Linked DNA regions of Homo sapiens: region 1 is linked to region 2. Evidence: fine-mapped expression QTL. A gene starts in region 2. The other region holds a variant in brackets. All regions are shown on one strand. Distances are between the middles of the regions. Region 1 overlaps NIPA2 (NIPA magnesium transporter 2). Region 2 holds the start of NIPA2 (NIPA magnesium transporter 2).

What was found. PIP is the estimated chance that this variant, and not a neighbour inherited with it, causes the effect.
Region 1: its variant is the best candidate, but not a certain one, in a credible set for the expression of NIPA2 in monocytes (TOPMed, PIP 0.52).

Annotation. Positions count from the first base shown.
Region 1 is chr15:22,857,136-22,861,135 of GRCh38, reverse strand. It overlaps NIPA2 (NIPA magnesium transporter 2), which reads right to left. Exons shown (of 8, transcript NM_030922.7): 6 at 2,506-2,596; 7 at 347-507. Among named protein-coding and RNA genes, the nearest start is that of NIPA2, 20 kb to the right of the region's middle. The variant C/T (reference allele first, on the strand shown) is at 1,798.
Region 2 is chr15:22,836,471-22,840,988 of GRCh38, reverse strand. It overlaps NIPA2 (NIPA magnesium transporter 2), which reads right to left and starts at 2,323. Exons shown (of 8, transcript NM_030922.7): 1 at 2,068-2,323; 2 at 1,199-1,334. RefSeq lists an enhancer at 2,197-2,426.

The DNA of each region.
Region 1 (4,000 bases), 20 kb before region 2:
ACAACCATAATAAAGACTAAGATGACAATAAAAGTTATGTATCAATGATAATGTAAACAATCTCAAGAAAACTATATAGGTACAGTAAATAAAAGGTAAAACAGATAATGCCTAAAGCTAAGGAAGTAAGTAGTAGCAATATACGCACACTACTTACAAACACAGAGTTAAAGAACAGTAGAAACACAGGCTTGGGATTGATAGGAGGGAGCAGGGAACATGACGACAATTTGTTCTTCTACCAGGTGGAACAATTTCTTTCCTTATGTGCTCATCAAATTTCGATTAAAGTAAAAACTAAGTTAAAAAGTAAAATACAGTAAGACTAATAAGACTTTTTTCTTACCTGGATCACCTAGCTTGTGAGACATTTCATTTAAAGTCTCAATCTCCTCTTCCTTTGGAGCATGAATGACCATAACTGTAGATCCTAGAATACTTAGCAAACACCCAATTTTCCCATGAAGATTAAGTCTTTCATTGAGAAAGTATGAAGAAAGAATGGCACTAAAATGGGGAGGAAAAAAAATTGAGAACTTTAATCAGCTACTTTCCTTTTTCAAATATCAATAAAACTCGTAATTTAAATCACTGAAATCAAACTAAAACACTGTGAACTTATGAAGATTCTGGCTTTCGCCAAGGAAAAAAAGTATACATTTCATCATAAAATGTAAACATTTCTAGGGAATCATCTGCTTCATCATACACTACACCTGTATACTTACCATCTTTCCACTGCAAGAAGTCAGTATGAAATTTATAATAAAGAACAAATTTGTATACATTTATATCCTAATTAAGAACCTATATCCAGGCCAGGCAGAGTGCCTCACGCCTGTAATCCCAGCACTTTGGGAGGCCAAGGTGCGCGGGTCACCTCAGGTCAGGAGTTCAAGCCCAGCCTGGCCAACATGGTGAAACCCCATCTCTACTAAAAATACAAAAATCAGTCAGGCATGGTGGCGGGCATCCTGTAATCCCAGCTACTCGGGAGGCTGGGGCAGGACCTAGAAGGCAGAGGTTGCAGCGAGCTGACATCGCGCCACTGCACTCCAGCCTGGGTGACACAGTGAAACTCCATCTCCAAAGGAAAAAAAAAAAAAAAAGAATCTCTATCCAAACCACCAGTGCTTAAAATTTACTCAACTTATTCCTATTGGTTGATGCATGCACCCCTCTTATGTTGTTAATTGTATATAATTTGCCTATTACATTATCAGGTTTTAATAACTTGTAGCTAGTTTTATCTAGACCTAAAAAGAAAATACAGCATAAACCAATAAATACAGTAACAAAATACTACAAAGAAAATTAAGGGTAAAGGGCAATGACTTATACCATAACCCTGTTTTACATATAGTTTTTTGGGGAAAAAAAAACAGATAAAAATCAGTCAATCTACTTTGGGAATAGTAACCAAGATCCAGACATCAATATGGGCTTAGTTGTTTGGGCTAATCATTACAAAGCAGAAATGGGACAAATCTCAGATCACTCATTCAAAACAAGCACTCCAGGCCAGGCATGCAAATCTACTCATTGGCCGGGCACAGTGGCTCACGCCTGTAATCCCAACACTTTGGGAGGCCAAGGCGGGTGGATCACGAGGTCAGGACATCGAGACCATCCTGGCTAACATGGTGAAACCACATCTCTACTAAAAATACAAAACATTAGCCAGGTGTGGTGGCGGGTGCCTGTAGTCCCAGCTACTCGGGAGGCTGTGGCAGGAGAATGGTGTGAACCCGGGAGGTGGAGCTTGCAGGGAGCCGAGATCGTGCCACTGCACTCCAG[C/T]GTGGGCGACAGAGCAAGACTCCGCCTCAAAAAAAAAAAAAAAAAAAAGAAAAAGAAATCTACTCATTACCAACCAGACCCTACCAAAGTGCACATGCACTGAATGATAAATACTGGGATGAGTGTAACTTTGAATTTTACTTATTTTTTATTTATTTATTTTTTGAGACAGAGTCTCGCTCTATAGCCCAGGGTGGAGTGCAGTGGTGCTATCTCGGGTCATTGCAACCTCCTCTTCCTGCGTTCAAGCCATTCTCCTGTCTCAGCCTCCTGAGTAGCTGGGACTACAGGTGCCCGCCACCACGCCCAGCTAATTTTTGTATTTTTAGTAGAGACAGGGTTTTACCATGTTAGGCTGGTCTCAAACTTCTGACCTCAGGTGATCCACCCGTCTTGGCCTCCCAAAATGCTGGGATTACAGGCATGAGCCACTGTTCCCAGCCAACTTTGAATATTAAAAAACTGAAATCGAAGTAGAACTAGTACTGGCTCTGAATACAAGCAAGACAAAGCATTTTCTCCCACAAATCAATAGCCTGCCTATGCACAGAAGTAACTTTTTAAAAGCAATTACTACGTAGTGTAAAAAGCGAAGTTCTCCAGGTTGTTGAAATGTAAATTGTGTTGAACATATTTAATTAGATGGTACTGAATATTTTAGAAACTAAGATACCGACTACTGTTTCTACATGAAAAACGTGTCCTTACCTTACTAGCACGCTGAGAGCTCCTAGTGGAGTCACTAGAGTGGCTGGTGCAAACGCATACGCAGCGAAGTTGGCCACCTCACCAGCTCCCACTTAGAGACAGACAACAAAAGAAAAACTCAGGTAAGAATGTATGTACTCAACTTGGAAATGCCGGCATTTTATGCACTATCTATATATTATTTCAACTGTATTTAGTAACCTCCATATTTTTCCAATTTATTATTTTTATTTTTTTGAGACGGAGTCTCACTCTGTCGCCCAGGCTGCAGTGCAGTGGTGTGATCTCAACTCACTGCGAGCTCCGCCTCCCGGGTTCACGCCATTCTCCTGCCTCAGCCTCCCAAGTAGCTGGGACCGCAGGCACTCGCCACTATGCCCAGCTAATTTTTTTGTATTTTTAGTAGAGACGGAGTTTCACCGTGTTAGCCAGGATGGTCTTGATCTCCTGACCTCGTGATCTGCCCGCCTCGGCCTCCCAAAGTGCTGGGATTACAGGCGTGAGCCACTGCGCCCAGCCTCTCCAATTTATTAATAAGGGTTATGGGTCTGTAAATTTCTATTACAGTAAGAGTCCAAGTCAATTAGAAACATTCTAGAAACAACACATATCTGTAAATCTAACGGAAGAAATCTAGCTCATGCTGACATAAGGCATTTTAATAAAAATTTTAAATAGATACTTATATCCCAGGACAGTAAATAAAAATCACTGAGAAGAAGCCGACATGAAGGTAAAGGTACTCTTCCCCCAAGTCCTTTTCATTTGGTCCTTTTTTTTTTTTTTTTTTTTTTGAGATGGAGTCTTGCTCTATCGCCCAGGCTGGAATGCAGTGGCACGATCTCAGCTCACTGCAACCTCCACCTCCCGGGTTCAAGCAATTCTCCTGCCTCGGCCTCCCGAGTAGCTGGGACTACAGGCGGGCGCCACCATGCCCAGGTAATTTTTATATTTTTAGTAGAGACGGGGTTTCACCATGTTGACCAGGCTGGTCTTGAACTCCTGACCTCAAATGATCCACCCACCTCAGCCTCCCAAAGTGCTGGGATTATAGGCGTGAGCCACCGTGCCCAGCTTGCTCTTTTTAAAAATGCAAATCATGCTATACACCAGGTCCTGTTCTAGAATCAGGATATACAGCAGGGTGCAAAACAAAGACATTGCTCTGATAAAACTTTTTTTTTTTTTTTGAGACAGAGTCTCGCTCTGTCGCCCAGTCTGCACTGCAATGGCGTGCGTGATCTTGGCTCACTACAACCTCCACCTCCCAAGTTAAAGCGATTCTCCTGCCTCAGCCTCCCAAGTAGCTGGGATTACAGGCCCACATACCCGCCACCACACCCGGCTGATTTTTGTATTTTTAGTAGAGACAGGGTTTCACCATGTTGGTCAGGCTGGTCTTGAACTCCTGACCTAAGGTGATCCACCCGCCTCAGCCTCCCAAAGTGCTGGGATTACAGGCGTGAGCCACCACGCCCAGCCTCTCATAAAACTT
Region 2 (4,518 bases):
ATCTTTCTGTTCAATATCACAATGTATAGCAATCAAATAAATCAGTTTAAATGAAGCTTACACCATCTATAAAAAAATGTAATATTCAAAGTCATGTGTTTTAAATATGAGTAAACCATATTTACCTATTAAAAACATTCTGAAAATATGTGAAATTCTTTTTATTATCTCTCCCTAACAATAGCTACCACTTACTGAACACCTCCCCAGGCACTATTCCATGCATCATTTCTACTCATTTCTCTTCTACGCAATAAGATGAAGGTATCACTTTACAGCTAAGGAAACCTCCCAGGGGTAAAAAAGAGTCACATGCAGAGGACCACACAGAAAGGGACTTTACTTCTACACCCGGCTGCCCACATTACATTAACACTTTAGAGCTCTTAGGTCGGGCGCGGTGGCTCACGCCTGTAATCCCAGCACTTTGGGGGGTCGAGGCGGGCGGATCACCTGAGGTCAGGAGTTAAGAGACCAGCCTGGCCAACAAGGTGAAACCCCCGTCTCTACTAAAAATACAAAAATTAGCTGGGCGTGGTCGCCGGCGCCTGTAACCCCAGCTACTCCGGAGGCTGAGGCAGGAGAACCGCTTGAACCCAGGAGGCGGAGGTTGCAGTGAGCAGAGATCGTGCCACTGCACTCCAGCCCGAGTGACAGAGCAAGATTCCATCTCAAAAAAAAAAAAACAAAAAAAAAAACTATATATAGAGCTCTTAGTTTTCTACGAAATCTTTACTACCTGGTTTCCACTGCTATCTAAGTTAGCTTAGGCCCGGCTCGGTGGCTCACACCTGTAATCCCCGCACTTTGGAGGCCAAGGTGGTTGGATCGCTTAAGTCCAGAATTAGGAGACCAGCCGGTGTAACATGGTGAAACCCCGGTTCTAAAAAAAATACAAAAATTAGCCAGGCATGGTGCCGCACGTCTGTGGTCCCAGCTGCTGGGGAGGCTGAGGTGGGAGGAGCACTTGAGCCCGGGAGGCGGAAGTTGCAGTGAGCCCAGATTGCACCGTCTAGCCTGGGGACAGAGCAAGACCTTGGCTCAGAAAAATTAAATACATGTTAGATTTAATTTTTTCCAACCTCTCACTTGGCTAATAATTTTTCAAAGCAGTACTGTACTTATAAATATTACAGAACCTAAATCTCCAACCCTAACTATGCAACAATATTAGTTATAAATTACAATTTTAACTTACATGTAAGTTTAATATGGTCTCTCTTATGAAAAAAAGGCTGGGAGAGGTTAGAGATGACTTATTCACTCTCATTTCCTCGTAAATACCACCCTTTATTCTCATTTAAAGTCTTAAACCCTGGCCGAGTAGCTCCAGCCTAGAAAGAAGAAAACACAGAAGTAGGCAAAAGACTTAAAGTTACTAAGTACGTTTTATAATTTGGTTACTAGCCTTCATACTCATTTTGCCAACCAATCAACATAAAACCTACTCAATCGAGCACAACTACTGCTTCGACAGGCAGCTTACTGGAATGGAAACTCTCGACTCTGATATTTCCTCTTACTAAAAAAAGTATTAACCGGGCACATGGCTATACACAGGATTTCTAGAAACAGAACTTAACATGCAGTCCTGTATTAAATGAACTAACAACCTAGAAAAGAAATTAAGGAGGCACAAACACCAAACTAAACACACAGTTTTGAGCAATTGTATAGAGAGGGAAATAGGATTCCGTGATTTTATAAAAGGAAATTAAAACAGTCAGGCTCAAAACGTCACAGCAGACTTCTAAGGCTTGTTTAACTGTCAGTTATGATCCCCGCAGCAGCTGAAGCCACCTTCTAAAACTCACCAAGACAAATGAAATTATTTTAATGAACTTAATGAACATGCGTCCCCGACATGGCCAACGAGCCAGGCTTCCGTGGGACTGAACGGCAATCCGATTCACGGTGGGTTTCCTCACTGAGGATTACAGGAAAACCGCTTCAGAACACCCGGAAAGGAAAGTTGCCCGAAGAACCCTTCTCCGACACAAGGCGGGCTGGCTCGCCACCAAGTCAGCCCCTTCGCGCTTGCCTGAAAGGAAGGAGTGGCGACCTCACCCTAGTCGGCCGGCCGGCCGCGCGGCTTCCCCTCGCCGGCGCAGCCTTGGGCACCGCGGCTCACACCCCCACACAGGCCGCCCAGTCCTGCGCTCGCACGGCCACCGCCTTCGTCGCCGTCCAGTGGGAGATGCGAGCATTCGGGGCTGAAGCCGTTCGCACCGCCTCCTCCATGGAGAAGCGCCGAGGAAAACCTGCCAAGGACAACCTCCGGCACCGCCGTCACCACCGCTGCCGGGACCTAGGGCCGGCGCCGGAAAACCTAGGCGCGGCTAAATGACGCAAGAGGCCTCGCGCGCACGCGCAGTGCCGCACCACGTACACCCCGCCCCCGGGGCTCTCTCCCGCCGGGTTCCGGTTCCTTTACAAGGCCCCAGTCGGCTGAGCGCGGAGGGCGGGGCGCGTAGAGTGTGGGGACGGGGGCGGGGCGCAGGATCCAGGCGGGACCTGGCGAGGGACGAAGCTGGAAGCGTAGTTAAGCAGTACAGTATGCTGCCAGGTGGCGTTGGCCGATCAGTTCAAAATCAAACTCCGGCGTGGCCCTTATTTAAAACGAGGATTCCGGGCCCGGCGCTGTGGCTCACGCCTGTAATCCCAGCACTTTGGGAGACCAAGGCGGGCGGATCCCGAGGTCAGCAGATCGAGACCATCCTGGCTAACACGGTGAAACCCCGCCCCTACTAAAAATACAAAAAATTAGCCGGGCGTGGTGGCGGGTGCTTGTAGTCCCAGCTACTCGGGACACTGAGGCAGGAGAAGGGCGCGAACCCGGGAGGCGGAGCTTGCAGTGATCGGAGATCCCGCCACTGCACTCCAGCCTGGGCGACAGAGCGAGACTCCGTCTCAAAAAAAAATAGAATAAATGAGGGTTCCGGCCGGGCGCGGTGGCTCACACCTGTAATCACAGCACTTTGGGAGGCCGAGGCGGGCAGATCACGAGGTCAGGAGTTCGAGACCAACGTGACCAACATGGGGAAACCGCATCTCTACTAAAAATACAAAAATTAGCTGGACGTGTTGGTGCGCGCCAGTAATCTCAGCTACTCCAGAGGCTGAGGCAGGGGAATCGCTTGAACTCGGGAGGCGGAGGTTGCAGTGAGCCGAGATCAGCCACTGCACTCCACCTGGGCGACAGAGCGAGACTCCTTCTCAAAAATAAATAAATAAATAAAATAAAATGAGGGTTCCCAGGGGCAGTCACAGTGTGAAGCTGCATTTAATTGGTGTCCCCGGGCGATGCCAAAGGGGAACAGAGCTCCCAAGAGGGCAAGAAGCGGGGGAAAGGGTGGGTCCAAAGCTGGGGGCGGGACGGGGCGGGGCCGAAATAGCTGTGGTAGTTCGACGACCGCTGGGCCCTTCCTTACTGACCCGGTCGCGGAATAGATGTGAGGTTGACGTTTGGTGAAAGCCCGCCTCGAGACACTGAGAGCAGATTGATTGAATGATTGATTTTGAGACAGAGTCTCGCTCTGTCGCCAGACTGGAGTGCAGTGGCACGATCTCGGCTCACTGCAAACTCCGCCTCCCCGGTTCAAGCGATTCTCCTGCCTCAGCCTCCCGAATAGCTGGGACTGTAGGCGCGCGCCGCCACGCCCGGCTAATTTTTTTTTTTTTTTAAGACGGAGTCTTTCTTGTCACCCAGGCTGGAGCGCAGTGACACGATCTCGGCTCACTGCAACCTCTGCCTCCTGGGTTCAATGAAGCCATTCTCCTGCCTCAGCCTCCCCAGTAGCTGGGATTACAGGTGCACACCACCACGCCCAGCTAATTTTTGTATTTTTAGTAGAGATGGGGTTTCACCATGTTGGCCAGGCTGGTTTCGAACTCCTGACCTCGTGATCCGCCCGCCTCGGCCTCCCAAAGTGCTGGGATTACAGGTGTGAGCCACCACACCCAGCCAATTTTTGCATTTTTATTAGAGACAGGGTTTCACCATGTTGGCCAGGATGGTCTCGATCTCTTGACCTCGTGATTCACCCGCCTCAGCCTCCCAAAGCGCAGATTTATTTTTCATGAGATGTATAGGAAACTAACTGTTAGGCTATCCTGCCTTGGCTCCTCCTGGAAAGGAGAAATTCCTTGGGATCCACCAACGTGGTTTCTGCAAAAGTAGTCAAAGACAGAGCTCATTTGTAAGAAGCAAAGAGTAGCCAGCTAGAGTTAGATCTCCTAGTAAATCAATGATTCCTTGGTTGCAGGTGTAGAGTCCCTTAGGAATGTTGTTCCAGGTTGTGACTAGACACAAAAACACTATTATATGAAATTCAAATCATGTGGGGGGAGGATCTTTATAAAATGAATTATGCACTTTTTGAAACAAAACACCAAATATCATTTGTCCTTTTCAGGCTCTAATCCTATTGGACTGTTGTGTTCTAGACTGTATACACAGCCCCTGACCACTCTGGTTTTGGTTTAGGTCACTATGCAGCTTCTAATTTTAAAGCTTTT